Regions from separate parts of the Homo sapiens genome. Here regions 1, 2, 3, 4, 5 and 6 are each linked to region 7. Evidence: fine-mapped QTL for protein levels in blood plasma. Region 7 holds a variant in brackets. A gene starts in each other region. All regions are shown on their forward strands.

Region 1 (4,092 bases), not on the chromosome of region 7:
AAGCCTTCTTGGACACTGCTCAGTGCTGTCACCACAGCATGGAGTTTTAGGGGCATGGCTATCACTTCAGTCTAGGTTATGACTGTAGCAAAGTACTAGCTGGCACAGGGCACCGGTTAGTACATTCACAGGCTTGAAGTTAAACAGACACAGGCTTGAATTTTGGTCCCACCGCTCATTTGCTGTTGAGCAGTGGGAGCAACTTGTTGGCCAAGTTACTCGCTGAGCCTCAGTCTCTTTGTCTATAAAATGGACCTAATACTTATCTCAAAGGCTTGTTGGGAAAGGCAATGAGATAACATATTATAGAAGGCAACCAATAACATATTAACTTGAACCTAGAGGAAGAGGTAAGGGAACAATTCGGTATCTGTGTTTTATATATCATGGATAGTCAAGAAAGTCATTCTAGGCAGTAGGGAAATGTGCACAGAGGTACTGCAATTACATGCGCCTGTAAAACCCAGAGGCTGGCACACTGGAAGGGAAATAGTGGAGATTCCTGGCATCTCCTGGCCACTTACGCTGAGGTATTCCCACTAGCTGTGTGCCCAGCACTTCCTCTGCATGCCTCAGATGCATTTGACAATCTCAGGTGAACTGCACTTCAGGGTCAAGGGAACCCCGGCCATGGTTCTAAGAAGCAACTCCCATTTTAGTATCACCTACATTTGAAACCACAGAGCACTGTCCAGGAGAGGTGATGGTGGTGGGTCTCCTCCTTTGGCTCTCTGGCCCATCAGCTGATACTAGGGAGCGCTATCCCTCAGCCCACATTTCTCAGCATGGTAAGTCTGAGAGTCTTGATGATTAAAACACATTTTTGTGTGTGCAATTTCATAGGTTTTCTAAACTCTTGAAACCCTTGCATGAAGGACAAAGGGACCCCACGTTACACACTCCTACTTCCTGGAGTATGCTAAGGGCTTCCCAACACTGGTGCCAACATCAGCATGCCAATGACGCTTGGGTGGGCATCTCTTTTTTAAGTTTTGTTTGTTACCTTTAATTAGAAAAGGGAGTTATTATTAAAGAATAAAAAGATATAGTCACAGATGGCATGGGTGGCACATGCAAAGATCCCTAGTTTGAGGGCCAGGCAGACTTCTAGAACTGTGTGACTCTGGGTGAGTCACTTGGCCCCTTTAAGCCCCACACTCCTGATCTATAAAATGGGCATGCTACTGTGGTAAGGAGTTAGTGACATAATTCACGTGAAGTGTCATGGTGCCTAGATGAAGTCAGGACCCACTATTTGCTCCCCTCCTTCCACAGCATTTACTACAATGGCAACAATACAGTCTCTTCTTTACTGTTTGTCTTCTCTGCCACACTGAGTGAACTCTCTTATGCCATGGATCATGTCTATCTTGTTTTGCACTTTACCCCCAGAGTCCAGCACAGAGGGATTCCATGACTTATTAGTAGCATGAAGGAATGTACGGAAATCATACAATTTCAGATTCCAGTAAACTAAACTCTAAGAGGTTACCCACATTCCATCTAGTATCTTGCAATTCCTTGTTTGAAAAAGTGGGTCATCACCTGGGGTTTAGTAATCCCTTTGTTAAAATGACATTGTTGTTGCACACAATTTTACCTGGGCAAGTAAAAAAACCTTTTTTTCCCCCTTCTCACAGATTTAAAAACTCTTTAGGAAGCAATAATAGCTTTTCATTTTTTAACTGGGGCCAAAGTTAGTTAATCCACAAGAATGGGGATCCCAGCTGTCATTTTGGTTGATATCACAACTGACGACCAAGACCATCACAAATATGGGAGCAAGTCTGATTTGTAACATTATTATAATTATGAATCCAATTACTTTAAGGAATGCACGAAAGGCTTTTTAAAAATTTCAATAGTAAGGCAGGCACCACTCACTTTAGCTCTATACAATCCTTTAACTGATGGGCATTAACATTTAGGAATATACTTTTATACATCAATACACACCACTTCAAAATAAGATAAAACAAACATTTCCACAAACTATGCATACACACAGATCTTGCTATACAGTTATTATTAGGTGGCTTTTAAAATGGACACTGTACATCGGTCCCTAGAGTACTAAGTTTTCACTAATGTTCCAGCAGATGACTCACCAGGGATGCTTCCAGGAATCCACCAACTCCCTCCTGCCAGCTGCTGGGGTAGCACACTAACGGTTTCTACACCTGGACAGCTGCAGGCCCACAGGGAGGGGAGGGAGGTAGGGGCTTGGGAAGTGCTTACCTTGCTCTGGGCAGGACGGAGAGTCCAATGGCCCTGAAACAGATGTTGTTTCTTCTGCTGCTGTTGCTGGTACTGGAACTTATATACTCTACTCCTTTCTGATGGAAACTTAAACTAGAAACTGACTTGTTGCAACATTGAAAACAACTCTCAAAACCTTCTGGGGGAATTTCAAGAAGTTCCTTTTTTGTTTGTCTCTCTCTGTGTGTGTATCAATAACGAGGAGGGAACATAGACATCAAAATCCCAGGTAATGAACTAAGAGGAAATGACTTTTGGGTGGGGAATAAGGAAGGAGATGGAGATGCTAATTTCTCTGGGTTTACATCATGGCCAAGGTGCTTGGAGACAGCACTAGGCAGATTCCCTGGGTTCCACAGATCGAGGAAGAAGGAAGGCCAAGGGGCGGTCAGACGGGAGGCTGAGTTCATGTCGGGATGGAACAACTGTATGCCCAAGGGCTTAAAAACAAAATCCTGGTTCTTCCCAAGTCAGAGAGGATGAGATGAAGGGCAAAGGGTTTAGTACATCTGGGGCGCCTTCCTCCACATTAGTCCTTTAATTTCAGAAACATACTATTTACCACCCATCTTGGCTCCATGCACCTCTCCCCACATTCCCCGAGTGGGAACACACGCGTGCACACACACACCCATGCACATTTCATACAGACACAGACCTGGGGAGATGATAAAACTGCGTGTACCACTAATAAGACTCAAATATGTGCACATCCTGTGCTCATAGGTACTCGCTCATAGGGGCGGATGGGAGCAGAAAGTGAAATACCCTCAGGGAGGCATACAGACAACCACACTCAAGGCACCCCCCCTTGGGCACCCAGACTACATCCTCATTTCATTTGCACACAAATCTATGGCCCTAGGGGCTCCGTGCAGATGCACAGGAATAGCGGAATAAAGATATCTCTCGTGGTGGAATTTCAAGTTGCTAAGAGGTATGCAAAGGTGTACACCGGTGTGGACCCCCCCATCCCCCGCCCAGTCTGCACGTGAACAGGAACATGTACCTGCACGTATACCAGGTACACGCAGACAGATGCGGGCCATCCCCAGAGCCGCCGACAGAGGTCGCTGCGAGACGGTACCCGCGCCCCACAGTCCACCCGCTCCTCGGAGTCCCCCCGCGCCCCGGAGTCCACCCGCGCCCCGGAGTCCACCCGCGCAGGTCCACTTCTCCATCCCTGCTCTCGACCTCCGCCCCTGCGGTGGGGGAAGTTCCTGGGGCGGTGGCTGGGACCAGGCCGGGTTTTAGGCGGGCGCAGATTTCCGGGCTAACTTTCCTCGCCGTCTCAGCGCGGGAAGGGGGAAATGGGAAACCCGGGCCAGAGCAGCGGAGCTTCCCAGCCGCACACTTCCTCCCTCCAGCCGTTTGTCTCGGCAGGGGAGGGCCCAGGCAGCCAAGCCGGCAGGCCCACTGGTTATCCGACCTTGTGCTCTGGCCGTGGGTGGAGACCTTACATCCAGCTCAGAGCGCCTCCTCCCATCCCCTGTGTCCTCTAGGCCTCCCCAGACTTTGCCTTTTAGCCTTCCAGTGAAACAAGTTCTGTATCCAAGATATACAATTAAGTGGACAAAGCAGATTGCAGGTATGTTTTTTCGTATGATACCATTTGTGGGGTGTGTGTGCGTATGTGTGTAAGTGCACCTGCACTTTTCACAACTGGTATCTCTGAGGCATATGTAACAACTGGGGGAGGGGCTTTTTGTAAACATGTATTAATTTCCTCCGATCCATCACTAAAGTGTACTGAACAGAAATTGACGTGAAGTAGTTTCACTAATTTATTTACAGTGGCTGCACCACCACAGATGAGTCCTTGTGCCCCCCCAT
Region 2 (4,000 bases), not on the chromosome of region 7:
GCATTATCTTGTAAACGGAATATTCTTATACCCTGTAACTCACAGTTCCATTCTTAGATGTATGCCCTAGAAACGCTGTCACACTAAGAACCAGACATGTCTTTGTGTTTACTTCTCTTTTTTTTTTTTTTTTTTTTTTTTTTGAGACGGGGTCTCGTTGTGTCGCCCAGGCTGGAGTGCAGTGGCGCGATCTTGGCTTACTGCAACCTCCACCTCCCGGGTTCGAGCTATTCTCCTGCCTCAGTCTCCCGAATAGCTGAAACTACAGGCGTACGCCACCACACCCAGCTAATTTTTGTATTTTTAGTAGAGATGGGGTTTCATCTTGTTGGCCAGGACCGTCTCTATCTCTTGACCTCATGATCCTCCTGCCTTGGCCTCCCAAAGTGCTGGGATTACAGGCATGAGCCACTGCTCCCGGCCTTACTTCTCACTATCTGTGTGACCTTGAGCAAATCACTTAATCTTTCTGTGCCTCAATTTCCTCATCTGCAAAAAGGAATCAATAATAGTATCTTCCTCATAGGGTTTTTGTGCAGATTAAACAAATAAAATAAGTAAATATTTTAAAGCATTTAGAACAGTGCCTAGCACACAGTAACGCTATATAACTGTTTCATAAAATAAAAATAAATAGGCATAGCCAGGTGCAGCAGTTCAAGACTGTAGTCCCAACTAATCAGGAGGCTGAGGTGGGAAGATCACTGGATCCCAGGAGTTCGAGGTTGTAGTGTGCTATGATCATGCCTGTGAATAGCCACTGCACTCCAGCCTGGGAAATATAGTGTGACCCCATCTCAGTAAATAAATAAATAAATAAATAAATAGAGATGCATATGTAATAAAGCACTTAAAAATAAGAGAACAATAAACACAAAATTCCAGAGGGTGGCTACCTGTGGGTGGGAGGCAAGTAGCATAAAAGTGGACAAGTGGTGGCCAGGTGTGGTGGCTCACGCCTGTAATCCCAGCATTTTGGGAGGCCGAGGTGGGCGGATCATGAGGTCAAGAGATCGAGACTCTCCTGGCCAACATAGTGAAACCCTGTCGCTACCAAAAACACAAAAATTAGCTGGGCATGGTGGCATGCGCACCTGTAGTCCCAGCTACTTGGGAGGCTGAGACAAGAGAATCGCTTGAACCCAGCAGGCGAAGGTTGTGGTGAGCCAAGATTGTGCCACTGCACTCCAGCCTGGGCGACAAGAATGAAAACTCTGTCTCAAAAAAAAAAAAAAAAAAAAAAAGCAGATAAGTGGTGTTTGCAGTTTGGTGATACTCCATCCTTGTGCTGAGTGGCAGCTTCAGGTGTGTTTGGTATATTACTGTGCAGTATGATGTATATGTATGTTACATAAGCTTTTTATGCGTTACCTAGTAAATTTTACAAAAATAATAAAAGGGAAAAAGGGCCTTTCTACGTGCCTAGAAAGAAGAGGCTTCATGGGAATGTGAGCCATGGGTTAGGAAAGACCCCCTCGAACCGAGGCAGGTAGGAAGTGAGTGACTGAGATTCATTATGAACCCACCACGCCTGCCGGGGAGAACAGGGACTGTCCCTTCCCCTCTGCATCAGCTCAGATGGTCCAGATCACAGCCCACGTGGGCCCCTAAATAAGGAGGCAGCCCCACATTTCTACATCGGCCACCGAGATGGCAGAGCAGAGGAAGGAGAGAGGGGAGACAAATCAGGAAAGGAGCGCCAGGGCAAGTGCGTGAGCTCAGAGACCCAGCAGGGCAGGGCAGGAGCTTCACAGAGTGCAGAATGTCGAGCCACAGGAGCGCTGGGGATTCCCCAACCCCTGCACTTACCAGCGAGAAACTGAGACCCAGAGAGGGGAACGGACTAAAACTCAGACCTCGACACTGCCAAAATCCTTCCCATGCTGCCACGCTTCATTGGAGGGAAAGTGAGAAGCTCAACCTTACCCCTGTGGGCTCCAAGAAGGGTAGCTCTGGGATCCCGGGCAGGAAATTGGTGACAAGGTGACAAGGTGCGCGTGTCACAGCTGCCCAGTTCACGGCTTATTCAGTCTTCTCCCTCCCCCCACTCCCCACCAGAAGTGACGTGCTTCCTGTGCCCCGGTTCCCACCCTAAACTAGCCTCATTTAGCTCCACTCCCATTCCGCTTTTTTTTTTTTTAATTGTGGTAAAACGTACACAACAGAATTTACCATTTCAATTTTTTTTTTTTTTTTAGACTGAGTCTCAGTCACCCAGGCTGGAGTGCAGTGGTGTGATCTCGGCTCACTGCAACCTCTGCCTCCCGAGTTCACGTGATTCTTGTGCCTCAGCCCGCAGAGTAACCGGGACCACAGGCACCTGCCACCACGCCTGGCTAATTTTTGTATTTTTAGTAGAGACAGGGTTTCACCATGTTGGCCAGGCTGGTCTCGAACTCCTGACCTCAAGTGAACTGCCTTCCTCGGCCTCCTAAAGTGCTAGGATTACAGGCAAGAGCCACTGCGTCCAGCCAATTTTTTGTTGTGTTGTTTTTAAGACAGAGTCTTGCTTTTGTCACCTAGGCTGGAGTGCAGTGGCACAATCACAGTTCGTGGCAACCTCTGACCCCTGAGCTCAAGTGACCCTCCCTCCTCAACTTCCCAAGTGACTGGGACTACAAGTGTGCAGCCACCAGGCTTGGCTAATTTCTGTAGTTTTTGTAGAGACAGAGTGTTGCTTATGTTGCCCAGCCTGGTCTCAAACTCTTGAGCTCAAGCAATCCTCCCACCTCAGCCTCCCAAATGCTGGGAATGAGCCACCGTGCTAGGCCCATTTTAATTATGTTTAAGTGTACAGTTTGGGGCACTAAGTACATTCACATTGTTCTGCAACCATCACCACCATCCATCTCTGGAGCTCTCTCTTTCTCTTTTCTTTCTTTTTTTTTTTTTGAGATGGAGTTTCGCTCTGTTGCCCAGGCTGGAGTGCAGTGGTGTGATCTTGGCTCACTGTAACCTCTGCCTCCCAGGTTCAAACGATTCTCTTGCCTCAGTGTTTTTGTTGTTGTTGTTGTTGTTTGTTTGTTTGTTTGTTTTGTAGAGATGGAGCCTCACTCTGTCGCCCAGGCTGGAGTGCTGGAGTGCAGTGGTGTGATCTCGGCTCACTGCAACCTCCGCCTCCCGAGTTCAAGCAATTCTCCTGCCTCAGCCTCCTGAGTAGCTGGGACTACAGGTGCACGCCACCACGCCTGGTTAATTTCTTTTGTATTTTAGCAGAGATGGGGTTTCACCATGTTGCCTAGGCTGGTCTCAAACTCTTGAGCTCAGGCAATCCGCCCGCCTTGGCCTCCCAAAGTGTTGGGATTACAGGCATGAGCCACCGTGCCTGGCCTTGCCTCAGCCTCTTGAGTAGCTGGGATTACAGGCACGTGCCGACTGGCTAATTTTTGTATTTTTAGTAGAGATGGGGTTTCATCATGTCGGCCAGGCTGGTCTCGAACTCCTGACCTCAAATGATCCGCCCACCTCAGCCTCCCAAAGTGCTGGTATTACAGGCATGAACCACCACGCTTGGCCAGAACTGCCTTCCTTTTGAAGGCTGAGCAATATCCTATTGTGCGTGTGTGCCGCATTCTGTTCATGCATTCATATACTGATGGACACCTGTGTTGCTTCCACCTTTGGCTATTGTGAATAGTGCTGCTACAAACAGGGTTGTACAAATACCTGCTCAAGACTCTGCTTTCAGTTCTCTGGGGTATGTACCCAGAAGTGGAAATGCTGGATCATAATGGTAAAATATACACAACAAAATCTACCATCTTAACCTTTTTTCTTTTTTTTTTTTAGTGGTAATTCTGACTGGGCTTGGTGGCTCACACTTGTAAATCCGGCACTTTGGGAGGCTGAGGTGGGAGGATTGCTTGAGTCTAGGACTTCAAGACCAGCCTGGGTGACAAAGTGAGACCCCATCGCTACAAAAAAAAAAAAAAGTAATTTTGTTTAATTTTTGAAGATTTGCCATCCTGTTTTCCTTACTCCTCCCTTTGATGTGCAGTTT
Region 3 (4,092 bases), not on the chromosome of region 7:
TAAAATTTTCCTGTTACTCATTGATACATAGTACTTAATTACATGTTATTCCATGTACACTGAAAACAATATAGGAAATATATACATCTAAGACTTCTACTTTGTACAGTCTTTCATTAAATAAGAATACTTACACATACATTTTCAGATATTTCTACCTTCCTGTATGTGTTTGGAATTGTATGTAGGTAGCCACTGAAAGAATTTGGGCCCCTTGGGAGGATGGCAGTGGAAGTCCATGAAGTAAAGAGCATTCTTTAAAAAGCAGATTTGATTGCATACCTTTTAGTTATTTGAGATTCTGAGAATTCTGATAAACCCCAAAGCAGAAAGATTCCTTAGTACCCTTGGAAGATGGGAAAGGTGAGGGAAATATTTGAAGCAGGGTCAGAACATCCACTAAGAACATAGCACCTCAGTAGAGCTTACATTATAGTGCCAGGGTAGAGTTATTACTGAATAGCTTAGGATGATGAACATTAACCTTCCTACAGGAGTAGTAGCAGCTGATTTGGTGACCATCATTGGTCACCTTTTAGTGTAACTGCAAACTAAGAACAATTATGGCTTGACATATACTCCATGTAGGGAAGTGATGGGAGAGGCAGCCTCTGTGTGGTCCATCCTTGGAAGCACTGCATCGATTTTGCTCCCCTCTGGTTTTAAGGAGATCTTTTAGACCTGTAAGAAGAGAAAGGGGATATAAAAGTGTGATAGTCTGACTCTGGCTTCAGATTGGGTTGTGTTTGGAAAGTACCGAGTTCATAGAATAGATAACTGAGCTTTCCTGCTGCTATGCATTCATTATGGATTATAGGGGTTGCTTTTTTCAACCATGAAAGACTTGGGGAAAATGTTGTCAGTTTTGCTTAGATAGTTATAGCTGTACTTCAAGGTTGACTGGTAATCAGGGTAACTTCTGATACTTATCACACAAGATGGTGCCTCAGCATTTAAATAAATGGAGGTAGGGGAGGGCGTGGTGGTAACATACTTTTAAACCAGCGATTGCACAGCAAACCACAATGCAAGTATTTCTGACTCCCAAGATTGCCGTTTCCTAAAGAGCAATTCTTCTGCAGGCAACAGCAAACCTACCTTTCCTTGCTAACTGCTTTCAGTAAATTCTTGATGGCCTTCGATTCTGGATTCAGACATCTCTTCTCACCCTTCTTTTTCATTGTAGCACTGTAGAAATAAATAGGGATGAAAATATTTAAAACTGTGTTGGGTCAATAAAACAGATGGCATACGCAGTTCTGAAGTCAGACATTTAAGTTTCACTCTGCATGTTTTTGTTTGCTGTACATTAGTTTTAGAATCATCACAAACCCTTTACTGATCTTTTTTTATTATCATTACATATTTAATACAGTATATAATTACAACCAGGGAAGTGATAATCAGATGGGATTTCACTCACATGATCTCAACACGTGGACAAAATTGGCTTGCAGGAATAATTTCAAGTTTTTCTAAAGACCTTGGATTAACAGGTTGATTACTAATGCTGATGCAGGTACAGCGTACAGTTCTAGAGAGAGGTACTCCTGTAGGAAAAGAGGAACAGCAGAGAAGGTTAGCACAGTGTTCATTTTAGGCATTTAATGTAGACTGGTGGTATTTAGCAGAACCTATATCCCCATATCAGCAAATAGTCACTTAATCTGAGGAGGAATGGATCACATCATAACACAACTGTAAATGATTAAAGAGTTGATTATCTGGAAGAAAAGAATTGCAGCTTGTTGATTATAAAGTCAAACCCTTAAGCACAGTTCATGTGGTTCATTGAGCTTAGTTAGGTAAGGAAGTATCTGTATCTCATCTCTGTCCGCATTCCCTCACATTTTCTCTCTCTATCCTCCCTCTTCCCCATCTCTTCTGTCCTCCTTCCCTTTTTCCTTCTCTTTCTCTTATTCTATTTGTTTCTCTCACTTCAATTCATATAAGTTTTATGATCTGAGGGAATCTCTATTTATTTCCCTCTTATTTATAAGCATGCAGTGAAACTTTTACAAATACATTATTTCTGTATTTTTAGAATTTATACCTATTCCTATTTCTCATTTTACAAATTAAGTATCCTTTGATGTTCCTTACCTTGAATGCCACTTAGAGTCAGAAAGATAAGGCAGCAAATCAGAATGGCAGTTTGATTCATGGTGCTGAGACTGGAGGTTCCTCTGCTGTAGGCTCAGAATATGTCTAAGCAATTGAGGAATGTCTCAGAAAACGTGGGGCTAGTGTGCCATATTTATCTGCAAAGCCATTTTCCCTCCCTAATTCTGATTGGATAAGGGCATTACAGTTGACTTAGCAAAACCTGCTGGCTGTTCCTGGGGAAGTCCCATGTTGCAGACTCGAAGGTATTATTTATTGTAGCCTCCAAGTTACGGAATTTCCCTCTGCTCCTCTTTTTTTGGTAATAGTGAATTAGGTTTCACTTTCCAAAACATGAACTGTTTCTTGAAAAAAAGAACTTCATTGCATATAGAAAAAAACAAAGGTTGCAATCCATTCTAACTATAATGCTTTTTCTCAACACTTAAACTTTTACAGTTACTTTCAGAGGTTATTTTTCAAAATATCCCCAGTAATAGAAATTTTTCATCCTTTATAGGTAAACCTAATTTTTTGGTAACAGCAAGTTGTGCCTGATTATTAGAACAGTGATTTACCTGGACAGTCCTCCTTGATCAAATACTATAAAGTAATAGGACTGGCCTGCTTTGACAGGGTCAAAGATCTGGAACTGGCAAGTTTTAAATAATTCAATAAATGCTTTGATCATTCATAACACCATTAGATTAAGTAAATAGCCTCCAACATAACTATTTTGAGGGAAAACATTGCTCATTTGGGTATCTGATTTGTGGTGTGTTAAAACAAGTTTCACGTCTTATAGCAGTCCCTGAATGAAAACATCATAAGATGGTATCTAGAATGGTGTGAGAAAAGGATTCATAGCTATCCTAGGGTTATTGTAAAAAACAAAGGGTGCTTTTTGAGGAAATGAATTTAAAAGCGGGGGGGCACGCATAGAGACAGACCTTGGGAAAGTAGCTTGAGACAGAAGGGAAACAGGTTGATTTACGATGGGGTTCAGCTCCAAGACACTGTTAAATGCAAAGAAAAAGAAAAAAAAAGTGTTGGCCATTGAGCTAGTAACAGTGATAACTGAAATTGGCACAATTTTAACTGGATGATGAATCGTGGCAAAACTTAATTTCACAGCATTCAATAGTACTTGACTGATTATTCATAGTAGCTAGCAGTAGAAAGCACATGATACTCATATAATGGAACACATGTTGAACCTGAGAGTGGAAATTTAGCAGTATCCATGGATATAGTGGTCCTTGGTTGTGTTCTTTGCAAATGATTAGTAACAGGGAATCCAAGATGAAATACTGTTTCAAAGGCAGGCACCACCCTGCAATGAGAGATCTGAGGCAAGTGATATTTAGAACCTAGGAAAATATATGGGAGTTCTTTTCATAGTCAGCTGGGCTGCAACAATGCAGGGATTGGTCAGGGAATGGAAAAGCTTCCATCCTAGGATCAGGCTACTGTACTAGGCAGATACTGTCTCAGAACCTGGTATCAGGGGCCAAGAATAAAGCCTGTATCTGCAAACTGGGTGCACATAAAACTTGGATCCTCAAATGTAGGAACTCCATCATTAAAGCAGAGAGTGAGTTGCTTGGGGTAAATGGAATTTGCTAGAGAGCTGAATCCCATGTTAATCTGTTCTAGGAACTGGAATAGAGCTAAGCTTTCAAGTGAATAAGTCAGTGGAATTAGCTGTGGGAAACCGGAAAGGCAAAAGAGAGGGAGGTGAGGTAGAGACTGACAGAACCCAAAAGACTTTCACCTAGCAAAGAGGCGTTCGTTCTGATGAGGGAAAGTCTTATGAGAAATAGTGACAATGGAGGGATCCTTCCATACCTATTTGTGCAGAACAAACATTTTACTGTGAATAGAATGCCAACAAATTTCAGAGAAATGTCTGACATCATGAATGGAAGAGGCCTAGAAAAGTTCAACATTAAACAATCAAAATGAGAGATGGTGACAGTTTTATTTTAG
Region 4 (4,000 bases), not on the chromosome of region 7:
CCTAATTGCTTCAAAACATCTCAATGAATAAAAGTTGAAAAACATCAAATTAAGACTGGTGCTACTAATTTGGTTATGAAATATGTGCACTTTTGCCAGTATCCCATAGCGTATAATTTTTTTCATAGTACATTTTATGAATTACATTTAATGAATTGGTTATAAAACAAACCAAATGATGCATAAGAATGTCTCCCTACATATTGATGTGCTACATGATGTTTGGGGAAAGAAGTGTGTATTTGCATGAAAAAATGTTTGAGGAATGTTTTACGACACATAGATGCTTTTGACTTATAAGGGCTTGACTCCAGTAATAATGTCAATGTCTCCACCGTAACCACAGATAGTAATATAGCATAAAGATCAATACAGACAGATGACTTCTAGAGACAGAAATGTTCTCATAGTCACAACAGAATAGTTGTAAGCATCAAATCTAGAAGGTTCTCTAGCCTAGAAATGCATGAATGTATAATGCAACAAGTAAGAACGTGAAAGCACTTTGTAAACTCCGATGGTAACCAGCCTTTCTTAAGGTAGCTTTTCCTAGAAATCCATTTAATTGTTGGACTCCTTTGGGCAGTGGAATTCTGATTGTCATTCATTCAGGAAGACTGTATTTCTGTTTTTGGTCCTTTCACCCACCTTTCATCCTTCACATAACTGTACAAAAGTTGAAAGTCACAAAACCATAGAAAAGTCTCAGTTTCCTACTGTAGAATTCTTGTCATTTCAGTAGTCACAGTTAAACTTGTTCTAGGTTTTTCAGATGCTCTTTTCCAGGACTTCATATGTTTTGATATTTTTAAAAATTCTTTCTTTCAACTTTCTGGAATAAGAAAACAAGAGTTTTATTTACTTGGGCTGTTCTTGTTTCCCCCAGGACATCTAAAAACATGTAGTAAGAAGGGGAAGCTGTTACAACCAAGGACCCCTTAACAGAATATTTCACACAGGATCATAGCAGAATCTTTCTGTAGTTGTCCACATTATTTTCTTTTTCAAAAGATCTGTCTTGGATAAAACAGATTATAACATGGGAGTAATTTGGTAACTTACTTTGATTATAAGCCTTGCTTGCTTCGATTTGGGATTTAGGCATCGTTGTCCTTTATTTTCTTTCAGGGTAATACTGTTAAAAGAACATACAAGAGTCTTAAAGTTTAGATGCAAATACATAAACAAAAAAGCCTGCACCATTGTCATCTTCAGCAAGTTCATTACTTACATCACTTCTATTTTGTCACAGTTGTTACTTGGGTACATTATGGAGGCTTTCTCAATATCTGCCACTTTCACTGCTTTTACCCCAGGGCCTATGCAAAGACAGCGTCCTCTTTTGAACATGGGGAAGCCTAGAATAGATCATAGCATTAGTTAGTAATGCATCTGATTGCAACAGATGGCTGTGGTTTATAGCTGGTGGTGAACGTGAGCAGAATTTTCATTAAGGGTAAAGATAGTAATTTGTCAAATAGCACTTAACACAACTGTTACTGGGAAAAGTTAAGTAAGATGTTGATTATTTTCTCATTAAATTAGTAAGCAAATCGCTAACAAATGGGAAGCATGAAGGAAGTTTATTGGAGGTGAAGCTTGTTTTGCCCCCTTGATTTTATCCTCAAATATTTTCCCAGGAAGCTTGTTAACATGATCGCTATATAAAATCTTCTTAACAGACATTTAAAACTGTTGCTAAAGGCTTTTGCCAGATATTCTAGCCAAATCAAAAATTCCATGAAGTTCATAATTTCTAGTTTCAATAATCATCTCTAGTATCTTAAACATGTCCACCATTTCTGTGCTAAAGCTGTAGTAACTTCTAATCTGTGAGATTAAATAAAACTTTATCATGTCTTTTAGGATAAAAGTGGAAGAAAAGACATTTGAAACATTAGAAAAGGAACTTATAGGTTGAGAAATAAAAATTACTGCATACCTTGAACAACTGTAGCACACAATATCACAGCCAAGGCTATAGCCATGCCCTTCACACTCATGTTTGTTTTTTGCTGTTGCTGCTGGTGCTGCTGCTGCTACTTCAGCTTTGCTGCTCTTCTTGGAAGGAGTAGAAATGCTGAACATGAAAGGAAATTGATAATTGGCATATATAGAGCATTTTATACACCAGCAATCCTTTTATGGCACAGGAATTTCCCTCTTTGAGTCATGCACCTTTCCTGCTTCCAAGAGTTTCTGTTTTGTTCTCTTCTAAATGTTACTGTCCCTTCCTATTTGCAGTAGTGTTGAAAGTGATAAGAATGTGAAAGCACTGTGAAAACCCAGATGGTAACCAGCCTTCTTAAGGTAGCTTTTCCTAGAAATCCATTTAATTGTCGGACTACTTTGGGCAGCGGAATTCTGATTGTCATTCATTCAGGAAGACTGTGTTTCTGTTTTTGGTCCTTTCACCCACCCTTCATCCTTCACATATCTATACAAAATAATATTCTGAAAAGCTTTTTTTTATTATCTCACTTTTGCTTTTCAGTCCAAACTCTTATAATAGATAAGGCCTATATTATTTGACACCAGATGACCTTTATTCAATTTCATATTTTTACCTGTAAATGAGTGCCTAAAGAAGTTTCCCTGTGTTTCTGTATTTATGTCCATATTGTTTTGCATTTTCAACAATTTTTACTTTATATATTTTATTTTGTTTTGCTTTATTTTATTTTTAAATTTAATTTAATTTTATTACTTTATTTTATATTTATTTTATTCTGCAAAGCTTTCATTATAGGCAGATGGCAGGGGGCTCAGTCCTTCTTGGCAGCTGCTTTCCTCATGGCAGCCAGGACGTTGCTCAGCTCCTCCTGCCTTCTCTTGGTGCAGATGTTTGTCCCTACCCTTTTCTTGATGAATTTGAGGGCCTGTTTGACCTTGGAGACCTTCAGTAACTCCATGCCACGCCACTCGTTAGGGGTGAAGCCACACACCTCTGGGATCATGTCCCACACAAATTTAGTGAGTTTGGTCAGGCGCCCACAGTGGCTGTGCCTGGGCTTGCTCACATTCTTGGTCACCTTGTGGCCCTTGTTGAGGCCCACAGCTATAGGGTAGTGCAGTGTCATGGCTGCTGCCCTCCAATGGTGGCCATGGTGGAAAGCTACTTTATATATATTTTAGCACTGTTACTTAGTACATGAAGTTGTATGAGTTGTATTAGGGATCATAAAAAAAAGTGATCCTCTTTGCTCATGTGATAGTTTTACCTCTGAGATTCTACTTTGATGTAATTCCTATTTTTTTGTCTTTATCTTTTCCTCTTAAGCTTCCTAAATCTTTGTTTTAAGTGTGTCACTTGTAGATGTTTAAGAAAATCATATCAAAGGAGCTTTCTAATGGGTAAGCTTAATAAAATATATTTACTGTATAACTGGTAATCTGTAATTTTTAAAATGCTTCCTTGCTGATTCTTTATGTTTTCTTTGATTTCTTTCTAACTTTAAATATATTTTATTTAACTTTTTGAAGCCATTTTTGTTTTTTTTAATGAGATGGGTCTCACTCTGTCACCATTCTGGAGTCGAGTGGCACAATCATAGCTCACTGCAGCCATGAACTCCAGGCCTCAAGCAATCCTCCTGCCTTGGTCTCCCAAAGTGCTAGGATTACTGGGATGAGCCACGGTGCTTGGCCTTCCTTAAGTAATTTGAAAGGAATACATTGTTTTACATTTTGATATTAATTCTTAAAATTCTTTAAAAAGATTTTTACCTGAATTTTTCTAATTATTTACATCAACCATCAATAATATTTTTTTAGCTCCTGTCTTTGTAACATGAGAAAATCACTGTAACTTTCTTTCAAGAATTTTCTCCTATTTCCTAGTTTTACCAATAAAAGTTGGTATAATCGGGGAATTTATAGCCAGTTTATTACTTTTAGATTATTATTTTATCTTATTCAACTTCTTTTTTTGAGAATTATCATTTGCATTTTATCTTGAAATTATATATTTATTTAGATATAATCCTGCATTTAAATTCTT
Region 5 (4,092 bases), not on the chromosome of region 7:
CAGGGAAGGTGCTGGGGGGACCACAGGCGGGACGTGCAGGGGCCCACTGGGTCACTGGTACTGGTTGGGGGAGGACAGCGTGTTGCAGCGGCTGTGCGACATGTCCTCGTACACCACACATGCCGCCGAATTCTTATCCCGCCACGAGCACAGTTTCTTTATCTGAAAGACAGAACCGCCGTCTCCAACCAGTGGCCAGCGTGGTGTCCTGGACCCCACCCCACTCCGGTCAGCTTTCTAATTTTAACACGAGACCCCCACGGGGCTCCTCTGGGCTGGCCCCCAGGTCTCCTGAGCCCCAGGGCTTCCCAGCAGAGCCTTCCCCAGGCAGGGCTGGGTCGGACCCTGGGGTGCCTCTGAAGAAGGAGAGTGGAAGTGGCTTGGACCCCCCCACCAAGCCCAAGCCAAGCGGGACCCCCACTCCAGCCCCAGACAAACAGCAGGGACCGAGGGGAGTGGCCACGCCTAGACTCTGTGTCTGTCTGAGGCCCCCTCCCCTTCCCACGGCCACACAGCACGCCGGCACACTCCAACATGCACGCACAGTCCTCAGAGATCCCCACACACAGGCTCACACCTGCACACGTGCACACGCGGGCCCAGCGCCTGGGCGCTCCCTCCTCTGCCCGCACACTCCAACCTGCACGCACAGACCTCAGAGATCCCCCCTCAGACACTCACACCTGCACACGCGCACACGCGCACACGCGGGCCCAGCGCCTGGGCTGCTCCCTCCCCCTCAGGTCGCTTTGGTGCTGGTCCCCCTCCCTCCCCGCCGAGGCCACTTCCACCCTGAGAGTTCCAGAGCCTGCAGAGGAGGCGGCGGGTACCAGGGTTTTCCTCTGGGGCTTTGGCGCCCCCCACGCTGCTCTCAGGAGAGGGAACAATCTTTGGGGTGCAGGTGGCAGCTGGGGCTCACACTGACCTGTGTCCTCGCCAGCACACACGCCACCCCCAGGCCCAGCCCGAGGAGGAAGGAGATCACCGCCAGGGCCGCAGGGAGGGCAGAGGCTGCTGGCGGGTCAGGGAGGGCAGAGGCTGTCTGCGGGTCAGGGAGGGCGGAGCCTGTCGGTGGGGCAGGGAGGGCAGAGGCCCTTGGTGGGGCGTCCGAGCATCTGTGCCATCCTTGGGACTGTTCCTCTGAGAAGGAAAAAAGAAGGAAGGGATTCTCCCGGTGGAGAACCTGTTAGAGCCCCCGGGGTTTGGGATTCGGGGCAGGGAAAGGCTGTGGAGGGGAGGAGGGGCAGCTATCTAGGAGGCTGCTGGGGGCAGTGGGCTGGGAGCTGGAACAGTTCAGGCACATGTAGGAGGGAGGGTCCCACGACAAGGGCTGGGGGAGCAGAGCCTGGCCAGCAGCTGGGGTTGGGAGGGGGGTCTGGGATGGGCACATTCCCTACCTGTCACCAGGACCAGGGTGCCGGAGCCGTAGACATTGACCTCCGTGATGGCCTGGCAGGTGTAGGTGCCAGTGTCCGACAGCTGCAGGCGGTGCATGGTGATAGTCAGGTTGTCCTGGGACCCTGAGAAGTCGATGCGGCCCCGGAACCGTCTGTCCGTAGTGGGCACCACCCCGTCCTCGTAGTAAATGATGTCTTGGGGCTGTGGCCCGAGCTGCCTCAGGTAGATCCCACGCAGGCCCCCGCTGGTGGAGCAGGTGATGTTGACGGAGGCTCCCACGGGGACAGTCGTGCAGTGGGGAGACTGCTGCACCTCTGGGGAGGACCTGGGCTGTCACCATCAGTCTGGCCAGAAGGACAGAGAATGTCCTCCCTGCAGGGGACAGTGGTGGGGATGGTGGGGCCCTGAGACAGCCCAGGGCTGACATGTCGCCAAAGACACGGTGCCTTACGGGGCATGGAGCAGATCTGGGCACCGGCTGTGGTGTTGGGGGAGGTGCTGTCCTCGTGTTCCGAGACTGTGGGCTTCTTCCTCCCAAAGCAGCGGCCCTGCCTGGACAGCCCCGGCCACTCCCCACCGGGGTCCACCCTTTTTCCTTCTCTTAAATGAGTCCTCAGACACTGGAGGCCGCTCAGCACCCCACCCGCTTCCTGGGGGCTGTGCTGTGGCTCAGACTGGGGGCTCTGAGCTCATGGGGCAGGGAGAGCTCTGGAGCTGTGGCCATGGAGAGCCTGGGAAGCTCTTACCTTGGGCAGCCAGGGCCCCAGGCAGGCCGCGAGCCAGCGCCAGAAGCAGGGGCAGCAGCAGGAGCCTCGGAGGCCCGGCCATGTTCCCCACACCCAGCTCTCCCAGCCGGGCGAGTGCAGCTGAGCCTCTCTGGGTCTACAGGACCCCACAGAGAGCAGCACACAGGAGACCGCAGGCGCTCAGAGCTCAGAGAGGGCTTCCTGGAGGCGGTGCCTCAGACCAGGGTGGTGCTGTGGGCCCGGTGGGAGGGGCGGTCTCACCTACCCCTCCCCAGCACTGCCTCCCTGAGAGCTGCCCTGAGAGCAGGGCGTCCCTGTATCCCCCACTGCCCCTGCATCTCCACAGGGAGGAGGTCAAGGCCTGGGGCGGGGCAGACCAGAGGACAGAGAAGGGACTCCCTGGCTGGGGACGGGTGGCAGGGTCTGGAAGTGAGCGGCAGAGCTGGCCCCCAGCCTGCCTGGTCCTCTGGGGTACTTTCTGCTGGGACCCAATTTATGCCCAGAAATCTGGAGCCACCCATGACCCATGAGTCACCCACACAGTGCAGAGGAGCACAGGGCAGGCCAGAATTGGCACCCCCTGGTTTGGCCGTGGGGAAGGAGCCTGGGCCTGCACCCGCACCCAACGCTGCAGCCGACCAGCTGACCGTGGCTCTGCGTTCCATGTCCTGGAGGCGGGAGGTCTGAGGTATGGTCCAGGCCTGAGGTTTCCCGACCTCCCTGGGAGGAGTGCGTCAGGCCGCAGTGCCCAGCTTCAGGGGCTGAGGGAGACCTGTGCCTGGGCTCTGACCCCAGGGTGACTGAGTCCTCTGGGAGGGGGCACTTCTCTGTCCTGAGGGCCTCCCGCCACAATGACGAAGCGTTGACGTTGGTGCCCAAAGCCAGTAGGTGCAGCACATGAGCAGGAGTGTGTGGACACGTGTGTGTGCAGAGACGGGTGCGTATGGACATGTGTGTGCAGAGACGGGTGCGTGTGGACACGTGTGTGTGCAGAGACGGGTGCGTGTGGACACGTGTGTGTGCAGAGACGGATGCGTGTGGACACGTGCGTGTGCAGAGGCGGGTGCGTGTGGACGTGTGTGTGCAGAGACGTGTGCGTGTGGACGTGCGTGTACAGAGACGGCTGTGTGTGGACACTTGTGTGTGCAGAGACGGGTGCGTGTGACTCCATGCGTGTGTGCAGAGACGGGTGCGTGTGGACACGTGTGTGCAGAGACGGGTGTGTGTGGACACGCATGTGCAGAGATGGGTGCGTGTGGACACGTGCGTGTGCAGAGACGTGTGCGTGTGGATGTGCGTGTGCAGAGACGGGTGTGTGTGGACACGTGTGTGCAGAGACGGGTGCACTTGACTCCATGCGTGTGTGCAGAGACGGGTGCGTGTGGACACGCGTGTGTGCAGAGACGGGTGTGTGTGGACACGCATGTGCAGAGACGGGTGCGTGTGAACACGTGTGTGTGCAGATGGGTGCGCATGACTCCACGCGTGTGTGCAGAGACGGATGTGTGTGGACACGCGTGTGTGCAGAGACGGGTGTGTGTGGACACGCATGTGCAGAGACGGGTGTGTGTGGACACTTTGTGCAGAGACGGGTGCGCGTGACTCCATGCGTGTGTGCAGAGACGGGTGCGTGTGGACACGCGGGTGTGCAGAGACGGGTGCGTGTGGACACGTGCGTGTGTAGAGACGTGTGCGTGTGGACGTGCGTGTGCAGAGACGGGTGTGTGGACACTTGTGTGTGCAGAGACGGGTGCGCGTGACTCCATGCATGTGTGCAGAGACGGGTGCATGTGGACACGCGTGTGTGCAGAGATGGATGTGTGTGGACACGCATGTGCAGAGACGGGTGCGTGTGGACACGTGTGTGTGCAGAGATGGGTGCGCATGACTCCACGCGTGTGTGCAGAGACGGGTGCGCGTGATTCCACGCATGTGTGTGCAGAGACGG
Region 6 (4,081 bases), not on the chromosome of region 7:
AAGCAATTCTTGTGCTACAGCCTCCTGAGTAGCTGGGACTACAGGCATGTGCCACCTCACCTGGCTAATTTTTGTATTTTTAATAGAGACAGGGTTTCACTGTGTTAGCCAGGCTAGTCTTGAACTCCTGGCCTCAAGCCATCAGACTGCCTTAGCTTCCCAAAGTGCTGAGCCTTAATCTACTGTTTAATCTGTACACTGGGCTTCTATTTTCAAAAATTATGTTTTTACATAACTGCTTGCTTTTTTTCCCTCAATCTTCCTGGTCACTTTAAATAGTCTCTTGTTCCTTATCTATACTTTCAATTACCAACTTTTAATTCTTGAAGCATATGAAACATCCTTATTTTATATTATATATACTGCAATTCCAACATCTGAGATGTGTTCGAAGGTCTGCATTTTTAGTTTATTGCTTGGTGCTCCTCTCACCTAAAGCACCTTGTGTCCTGTGTTTTATGATTTTTCTGTTTTACAAACATGTGAACTCATGTTCCATGGGAGTTTTTCTGTGGGATTTCTTTGAGTCATGAATATAGGATGAGTTACTCCAGAGACAATTTTTATCATTTGTTTCTGCCACGTGCCTAAGGAGCTATTATTTACCTTACTTTAAATTCTTATCTTATCTTTTTGTTTGTTTGTTTTTTGTGTGGTTGTTTTTGCCACAAAGTCACCATGAGTTTCACCTCCAGGCCTATTAGTGGGTAGACTTGTGGTGAGGGGCATTCAGGGTTGACATTTATTTTTCTCCCACTCAGAGTCCATACTGAGTTGGGCAAGCTCTGTGTCAGCTCGCTTTAAGGAATTTTTCTCTCCGAGTTCTCCACTGTGGATGTTGTATTTCAGTGCTCTTTGTTTAAGGCAGAAATTTTGGATTTTGTTTTTCACTTCGATTTTGTTTCTCAGCTTTAACTTTTGTCCATGTTCATAAGACTGAAGCTCTTGGTCAACTGGATCAACAGATACTTCTCTGCTGGCTGTGATCTCTTTGGATTTTTGTTGTCTTTATATATTAACATATACAAGGTCTCACTCTGTTGCCCAGGCTGGAGTACAGCAGTGCAATCTTGGCTTATTAAAGCCTTGACCTCCTGGGCTCAAGCGATCCTCCCACCTCAGCCTCCTGAGTAGCTGAGACCGCAGGTGTGTGCCACCAAACCTGGCTAATTTTTTGCACCTTTTGCAGAGAGAGGGTTTCACCATGTTGCCCAGGCTTATTGTCGTTTTTGATCTCTGATGATTTTCTTCATTTCTCACCACCTCAGCTACACATTTTAAAAGATGGTTTACAATATTTTTGTGGTGTTTTGTATTAGGAGAATTCTTCAGCATCTGCTGTCTACCATATTGTCAGAAATGGAGTCTAGCCATCCTTCCCGGCCCATTTCAAACGGGTTCCTCTTAGGACCAGGAGACCTCACATTATGTGTGTCCTACCTTGGCCTGTGGTTTGGTCACTTGTGTGTGTGTGAACTTCATCCTCCTTGAGGGCAGGAATATGGTTTCCTCTCTTTCACTTCCACAGAGTCCTGTCCAGAGTTCTGCACACCAAGACTGTGTAAATGAATGGAATTGCATCTGGGAGCTCGAGGCACCCATGCAAACCTGTGCTGCCAGTGACTTCCACCAGAGGGCAGCGGCAGCAGGTGCCGGCGCTGGGGCAGGACTGGGAGGAGTCTCACTCTGGGGGCGCCTGGTTCCCCGTGGCTCTAATACTTGCCGCATCAAATGCATACACCCACATTTAGGACCGAACCCAATGGAGGAGGACCGCTCCTCATTCCACATGTTGGGGAAATGAAGACAAGCAAGGATGCAGGAAGTGGAGGGCCAGGAGAGGTGGACCTGGGATGGGACCAATTGAGGCAGGGCCAGGATTTGGAACCAAACCCCTTCTGGATTTGACCACTTCCAGGGCCCTGCTTGGACAACCAAATTATCTATTCCTTTTCTCATTCAATAAACATTTATTCACCTCCTACCATATGCTCCACAGGGAGTACCATGGGAATTAAACACGCTTGGCCCCTGCCTTCTTCCTATAGCGTCAGTCTGCTGCAGTGCAATGGGGCAACTCGGGGTTTCTCAGGCAGCCCTGGGCTTCCTTCCTTCAGCCCTTTGCTCCTGCTATTCCTTCTGGCCCAGAGGCCTCCCATGATTGCTGTTTGTCAAAATCCTGCTCAGCCTTGTAGACCCAGCTCCCATGCCTGACTCCCACGGAGGCATGCCCAGTCTGGTACCTGGAGATGGGATAGCTGGCCCCACTGTGCCATCTGACGGGGCGGCTCCCACAAGGCCTTGGCACCCTTCCCTGTAGAAGGACTTGTGGGATGGCCATCTCTCAGGCCCTTCCCAATTTATATTTCTCTGAGGGGAGACTTAGGCTCTTATCTCCAAAAGTGCATCAAGACCACACCCTCCTTCCCAACCACCATTGCACCTAAGGTTAAGATAAAACTCAGGATTTAATCCAAGAGAGCCAAATTACACGGACCGGGACAGGCAATGGGTCATTCACTCCCTCTTCCAATATGTACTGATTGAGCAGCTACTACATTATCAATTTTTTCTTCTGGGCCACCAGAAATGAGGCATGGCTCTTCCACTTCCCTTCTTCTTAGAAGACCCTCGGGGAAGTGTGTCTGCATGGATGCGTGTGCATGCGTGTGTCTGGCTCCGTGACTCTTGGGGTGCAGCCTGGATGGGTGGGCTCCCAGCACAGGCAGCTGGGGCTCTCCCCACCAGCCCCTGTAACAGCAGCCCAGCTTCCTGCAGACCAAAACCACAAGCAGAACAAGCAGGCGTGAGACACTCACAGGTTGGGTTTGATCGCATGCGTGTCGGAGAGGAGAGAGCAGAGAGAGACACAGGAACAAGAACAGCAAAGGGTAGAGCAGACCTGCGCCAGGGGCGCACAACGGCCGTGTCCACCTCCCGGCCCCAAGATGGTGCTTCCCACAGGCAGCCACGCGTAGCAGCCAGAGACAGCTCCAGACATGTGGCTCTTCTTCGGGATCACTGGATTGCTGACGGCAGCCCTCTCAGGTAGGCCCCCTTCCCTCATCTCCTGCCACTGGTGCTGGAGGAGCCGGGTCCGGCCCTCTCAGTCCCCTTTCTGGTTGTTTCCTTGTGGTCACTTTTCTAGGATCTTTTAGCCAAGACTACACTCAGGTACCAGGGAGGTCCAGCATCTGGGGCTAGGAGAGGACACAGGAGCCCCTCGAGGGGCTGGGGCTGTGCCTGGAAGCCTCCTGGAGTGACAGAATGTGGGAAGCATGCTTTGTGCCTTACCAATGGGTCCCTAGGGTGTGAGGAGGGAGGTGCCTCTCCCATCCTTAAGCTCAGGAACTCCCCCATTTCCTATTTCTTGCCAACTCTTAAGAAGGAACCGTTCACCTTCCAGAGAGGCAGGACCACTGATGGTGGTACTTTCAACGCCAAAGCTGAGGCTTGGGGTCCAGCAGGCGTAGGCCAATCACAGGAGAGCACCTCCCGAAACAGGACTCAGGGAAGCCAGGGAGAGTTCTGGACAACCAGGCGCTGATGGCCTCAGCACAACCAGCTGGGGTAGTCTAGGGCATAAGCGAGCATGAAGGCCACCCCCACGTCTCAAGCTGCCCCCAAGTGTCAAGGCACCTGGCCACCTGGGCCAGGGAATCAGATGGCCAGAAGGTTTGGGGCACTAGACTGTGCTCCCCAGATACTTGCTGGCCCCTGTTGAGTGCAGGGTCCAAGCTGGCCAGAGCGGGGCAGGGGCCTGGAGATGCAAGAGATCCTGACCCCATCGAGCTCTCACATTTTGGGATTTGGGAAGACTGGTATGGAAACAGAATTCGGGCCAGGGGAGTCTGGGTCCACCTTGCAGCCAGAGAGCCAAGTGCTTTCATTTTGTGATGGAGGAGACCCAGGAAGACCCAGTCAGGAGGGGGCATCGAGCTGGTTTGGAGGACTGGGTACATGTCGCGAGACTCTGGGCAGGGAGTGCTCTCCTCTCTGCCTTGATCTCCAGGCATGTGTTCCGAGCCTGTGGCCTCATACTGGTTCAGGGAAAGCCATTCGGCTCTGGGAACTGGAGTTT
Region 7 (4,085 bases):
TGTTGTCCCTGTCTTGTAATTAGTTAGGGTAGTATGTTGGTTATATTACGTGGAATTTATTGCAGGATGGTAAGGGAGCATGTGACAAAATGGGGCAATAGTTCTGTAAGGCTGAGAGAAGCTGGGGGTGTACCCAGTGGCTAGGCTACTCAGAGGGGACTGTCATGCTGTCAGTAGTGTAGTGGGAGCCAAGCAGGCTTTACTCACCGGCCTGTTAACAGCTGTGCGAGTCATGCCTTTCGCTTGTGTTAGCTCACCTTGTGAAAAAATGAGCTGAATTACAGATGACAACTAAGGCATGGAGAGCCGAACCCTTTGTCCAGGGTTGTATAGGAAGTGGCAGGGTCAGGGCTGAATCTTAAAACCTAGAGGGTAGGGCCCGGCGTGGTGGCTCATGCCTAAAATCCCAGCACTTTGGGAGGCCAAGGCAGGCGGATCACCTGATGTCAGAAGTTCGAGACCAACCTGGCCAACCAACATGGTGAAACCCCAGCTCTACTAAAAATACAAAAATTAGCTGGGTGTGGTGGCAGGTGCCTGTAATCCCAGCTACTGCGGAAGCTGAGGCAGGAGAATCGCTTGAACTCAGGAGGTGGAGGTTGCAGTGAGCCGAGATTGCGCCACTGCACTCCAGCATGGGCAACAGAGTGAGAATCTGTCTCAAAAAACAAAAACAAAAACAAAAAACCCTAGAGGATAAAAGAACTATAACATCTGGGATAAAGTTAGCTGTTGAAATAAATACAAGTCCTACCGTTGGGGTAGTGTCAGAGCTGGCCTACGTCTTTGACTTTGAGATTCCTAGCAGCCAGAGCAAAGAAAGAAATAGATTATTCCCACTGGAGCCACAGTGGCCATAACAAACAGAAGCCATCTGTTTAGATGCTGGGAATGGAGAAGACTTGCTCCCCAGAAATAGACGCTGCAGGATGTGGTGGGTGACAGTCTACTGTTCAAACCACAAATACCTGAAATGATCTGGCCACTTTGATCACCCAACCACAGTAGAGCCTAAGCAGGTCCAGGGAGCAGCTGTTGCTGGCCTGGCTTGACTTTTGAGGGAGGTGGAATAGCGGGCATGTGAGAGGAGGGAACCTAAAGCCCCCACAGCTGCTGACACAGCCCCCAGGTTTGAGCTTGTCTCCCCTCTCACCCATCCCCCCATATAGCTTAATCTGATGGGCATCTGGTGGTCCTTCCCTGCAGTGGCCAGAGCCTGAGCTGTCCAGGCTGAGGTTTCGACTGAAGCAGGGGTTGTCCTGCGCCCATGTGCCCACACGCTGCAACCTGGCTGGAGCCTCTGGCATAGGACACCCATACCACCAGGTAGCTGTGGCGGACCCCGGCTCTGATACTTGGCAGGCTTGGGTTGAGATTGTGGCTCTAGGCCTGGGCGGCTCTCAAGGGCTGCTGTGGGGAGTTGGGGAAGAACCCCTGGGTTGTGCTCAGCCAGCAGGCAGGTGGCAGCCAGGCTGGCTGTGGGTGAGGAGGGGAATCCTCTTTTCACCACTGCCTGCCTGCTCAGCAGTTCTTCAGCTGCTGGGGGTGGAGCTGGCTTGCAGGGGCCAGAGTCAGAGTGAAACCGGCAGCTCTGCTGGTTAATCTCAGCACTGACACTGGGGACTAGGCCTGGAGCGGAACTGAAAGGGAGACTAGGCCCGTTCCCCTCCAGGCCTGGCCTATATCCTCCCAGTGATCCTTAAGGCCTGCAGCTAGGGGGAAGGGTGGGGGCCAGGCAGGGCCAACTGGAAAAGTAGCAGAAGGAAGTGGCCACTCGCACCTTACCCATCTTGCAGACAGGAAATGAAGGCTCTGCAGGGCTGGCTGGCTGTAAAAATGGGCAAGAGCGCAGAGGCCCCACTCCCTGCACACTGCGCTGTGTCCAGTGCCCGTGTGGATGCCATGTGAGGCCTCACTCTGCCTGCCTCATCCTGGCTGCTGGACCTCTGGGAGTAGGAGGTGAAAATGCCCTGGCTGGTGCTGGTCACTTCAGGCTGGAATTTTCTAGTCATGCAGCTTTCTAGTGAGAGGCCGCAGTGAGCTGTGGCCAGTGTTGGTCATTCCTGCAGTCATTACTCTCCCCCAGCCTGTTGTGTCCGCCAACCAGAGCAGGCCCGGGAGCTCCCAGGAGACCTGCTGGAAGGGCCCAGGTGGCCATCCTGCTCCTGCCAGGCTGCCCTCTTACCTCACTGTTCATTGACTCTCCTGCAGGTGGGGAAGGGGGATAAAGGAGGTGGCCAGGCCACTGGGTCATGATCCTTCCGACAGAGGTACCTGGCAGCTCTGTGTGTAAAGCAAGGTTAAGCATCTGGTTTTGGGGGTCAATTCAACAGCACTAGCAGCTCCAGTCCAAGGTATGCCCTTTTGGGCTGAGGTGGAGGTCAGATCACCTGAAGCCACAGTTGCTAGAACATCCTTTGGGCTGCCTCTGCTTTCCATCCCCCTGCTCCCAGTTTGTTAGGGGTTGTAGTATTTTCCAGGAACACCTGAATGGAGGGGGCCCAGTGGGGCCACTTCTGTCCATTCCTTATCTCATCTCTTTCTCCCCTTTTCTTCTTTCGGCCATCTTTTCAGTCTTATCACAAGAGGAAGGGGAGGGGCAAACCCCCTCCTGAGCAGATTCCCAACCGGAAGCAGCTGGCTCCTTGGCTGCAGAGTGCCCCAGCACAGGAAGCATCTGCAGGGTCAGTTGAGACCTGGGAGCAGGTTTCCTGCTGGCAAAGGAACAGTGGCTAACTCCTATCCACCCTGCAGCCCTATGTGCCGGGTGTCCTGGGAAGGTCCAGGGCCAAGATTTTGTGGTTTTACAGTGGCTATAACTTAGGCTAGCCATGCTAGGCTCTGCCCCTTTGGGCTTGGTGTGATGAGACCGTCAGCAGCTGCTATCACCTGGCTGGGCAGGGAGCTGTTTGCTCACCAGTGGGAAGAGAAACGGATGTCAGACACATGGCAGAGTGGGAATGTCTCCAAGTCCAGGTCCAATGGGCTGGGAGGGCTGGCCTTCTGCCAGCACATGCTTCTTGGGATCTCAGTGTGAATGGTGTTCAGGAGGCTAGGGGAAGGCACCCTGGACCTCACTACAGGCTCAGAGCCTGCCCAGCAACACCATGGATACTCTCTCTAAAAGGGGGACTCCTGGGGAGACTATAGACAAACTCAGGCCTGGCTGGAAGAAAGAGCATCAGGAACAAGCCTTGAGTACCCCAACTTGGTCTCGTAGAGTTCAAGGCCCAAGCTACAAGCAGCTTGCTCCAGCATCCAGGAGGTCCGG[T/C]GGTGCACACGGCTTGAGATGCCTGACAACCTTTACACCTTTGTGCTGAAGGTGAGTGACAAGGCTTTTCACACCCTGGGGCAATACAAATACATACACATACAGCAGACCCAACCCTGTTCCCTTCCTCCCTGCCAGGTGAAGGACCGGACAGACATCATCTTTGAGGTGGGAGACGAGCAGCAGCTGAATTCATGGATGGCTGAGCTCTCGGAGTGCACAGGCCGAGGGTGAGGTCCTGGGCCCTCGTCCCTGGCACCACCTTTGCTGCTACCACCCCTGACCTGCCCAGATCCTTAACCTCAGCCTCTTCTCCAGCAGGCTGGAGAGCACAGAAGCAGAGATGCATATTCCCTCAGCCCTAGAGCCTAGCACGTCCAGCTCCCCAAGGGGCAGCACAGATTCCCTTAACCAAGGTGGGTAAACCAATAGCTAGGCCATTGTCTTCTGGGTACGCTGGAACCCAGACTCAGCCCAGGACATAAGGTAGCCCCCTGCGACCACCATCACCCATCTTATCTAACAGGTGCTTCTCCTGGGGGGCTGCTGGACCCGGCCTGCCAGAAGACGGACCATTTCCTGTCCTGCTACCCCTGGTTCCACGGCCCCATCTCCAGAGTGAAAGCAGCTCAGCTGGTTCAGCTGCAGGGCCCTGATGCTCATGGAGTGTTCCTGGTGCGGCAGAGCGAGACGCGGCGTGGGGAATACGTGCTCACTTTCAACTTTCAGGGGATAGCCAAGGTATGGGGTGGGGTGGGGTGGGGTGGGGCAGGCAGGACCGTGCCACCCCTCTCCACTGGAGTTCAGGGTCCTA

Direction of the effects. Positions count from the first base shown, and alleles are read on the strand shown. Strength reflects both the effect of a copy and how common the allele is.
As copies of C replace T in region 7, the plasma level of the protein whose gene starts at base 2,294 in region 1 goes down (moderate association).
For the plasma level of the protein whose gene starts at base 2,037 in region 2, T is the high allele of the variant in region 7 and C is the other (moderate association).
As copies of C replace T in region 7, the plasma level of the protein whose gene starts at base 2,230 in region 3 goes down (moderate association).
As copies of T replace C in region 7, the plasma level of the protein whose gene starts at base 2,086 in region 4 goes up (moderate association).
For the plasma level of the protein whose gene starts at base 2,339 in region 5, allele C in region 7 goes with a lower level than allele T (moderate association).
As copies of T replace C in region 7, the plasma level of the protein whose gene starts at base 2,814 in region 6 goes up (moderate association).

The links. A credible set is the group of variants that fine-mapping cannot tell apart. PIP is the chance, under the fine-mapping model, that this variant and not a neighbour inherited with it causes the effect. Protein levels are from antibody-based Olink assays in UK Biobank. Linkage for the fine-mapping came from a reference panel and not from the study's own genotypes, which makes the PIPs less certain.
Region 1: IL12B starts here. The variant in region 7 is the best candidate, but not a certain one, in a credible set for the plasma level of the IL12B protein (UK Biobank, PIP 0.73).
Region 2: it holds the start of ICAM2, and the variant in region 7 is the best candidate, but not a certain one, in a credible set for the plasma level of the ICAM2 protein (UK Biobank, PIP 0.52).
Region 3: it holds the start of CXCL10, and the variant in region 7 is the best candidate, but not a certain one, in a credible set for the plasma level of the CXCL10 protein (UK Biobank, PIP 0.61).
Region 4: CXCL11 starts here. The variant in region 7 is the best candidate, but not a certain one, in a credible set for the plasma level of the CXCL11 protein (UK Biobank, PIP 0.85).
Region 5: it holds the start of CD7, and the variant in region 7 is the best candidate, but not a certain one, in a credible set for the plasma level of the CD7 protein (UK Biobank, PIP 0.77).
Region 6: it holds the start of CD6, and the variant in region 7 is the best candidate, but not a certain one, in a credible set for the plasma level of the CD6 protein (UK Biobank, PIP 0.87).

The regions. Positions count from the first base shown.
Region 1 is chr5:159,328,194-159,332,285 of GRCh38, forward strand. IL12B (interleukin 12B) reads right to left here and starts at 2,294. Exons shown (of 8, transcript NM_002187.3): 1 at 2,239-2,294. It overlaps IL12B-AS1 (IL12B antisense RNA 1), which reads left to right and starts at 3,325. Exons shown (of 5, transcript NR_037889.1): 1 at 3,325-3,847.
Region 2 is chr17:64,018,597-64,022,596 of GRCh38, forward strand. ICAM2 (intercellular adhesion molecule 2) reads right to left here and starts at 2,037. Exons shown (of 5, transcript NM_001099789.2): 1 at 1,927-2,037. RefSeq lists enhancers at 1,657-1,776, 1,871-2,371, 2,117-2,206, 2,427-2,476.
Region 3 is chr4:76,021,268-76,025,359 of GRCh38, forward strand. It overlaps CXCL10 (C-X-C motif chemokine ligand 10), which reads right to left and starts at 2,230. Exons shown (of 4, transcript NM_001565.4): 1 at 2,104-2,230; 2 at 1,424-1,550; 3 at 1,099-1,188; 4 at 1-681. The coding sequence starts at 2,164. The coding sequence ends at 663. It also overlaps a transcript of ART3 not described here.
Region 4 is chr4:76,033,985-76,037,984 of GRCh38, forward strand. CXCL11 (C-X-C motif chemokine ligand 11) reads right to left here and starts at 2,086. Exons shown (of 4, transcript NM_005409.5): 1 at 1,943-2,086; 2 at 1,232-1,358; 3 at 1,063-1,135; 4 at 1-832. The coding sequence starts at 2,003. The coding sequence ends at 809. It also overlaps a transcript of ART3 not described here and the pseudogene RPL36P8.
Region 5 is chr17:82,315,270-82,319,361 of GRCh38, forward strand. It overlaps CD7 (CD7 molecule), which reads right to left and starts at 2,339. Exons shown (of 4, transcript NM_006137.7): 1 at 2,145-2,339; 2 at 1,398-1,712; 3 at 926-1,140; 4 at 1-162. The coding sequence starts at 2,226. The coding sequence ends at 52.
Region 6 is chr11:60,968,867-60,972,947 of GRCh38, forward strand. CD6 (CD6 molecule) reads left to right here and starts at 2,814. Exons shown (of 13, transcript NM_006725.5): 1 at 2,814-3,048. The coding sequence starts at 3,000.
Region 7 is chr12:111,443,533-111,447,617 of GRCh38, forward strand. SH2B3 (SH2B adaptor protein 3) reads left to right here. Exons shown (of 8, transcript NM_005475.3): 3 at 3,221-3,322; 4 at 3,410-3,501; 5 at 3,593-3,687; 6 at 3,798-4,012. LOC124903019 (a long non-coding RNA gene) reads right to left here and starts at 1,213. Exons shown (of 2, transcript XR_007063462.1): 1 at 1-1,213. RefSeq lists enhancers at 733-852, 1,603-1,872. The variant T/C (reference allele first, on the strand shown) is at 3,272.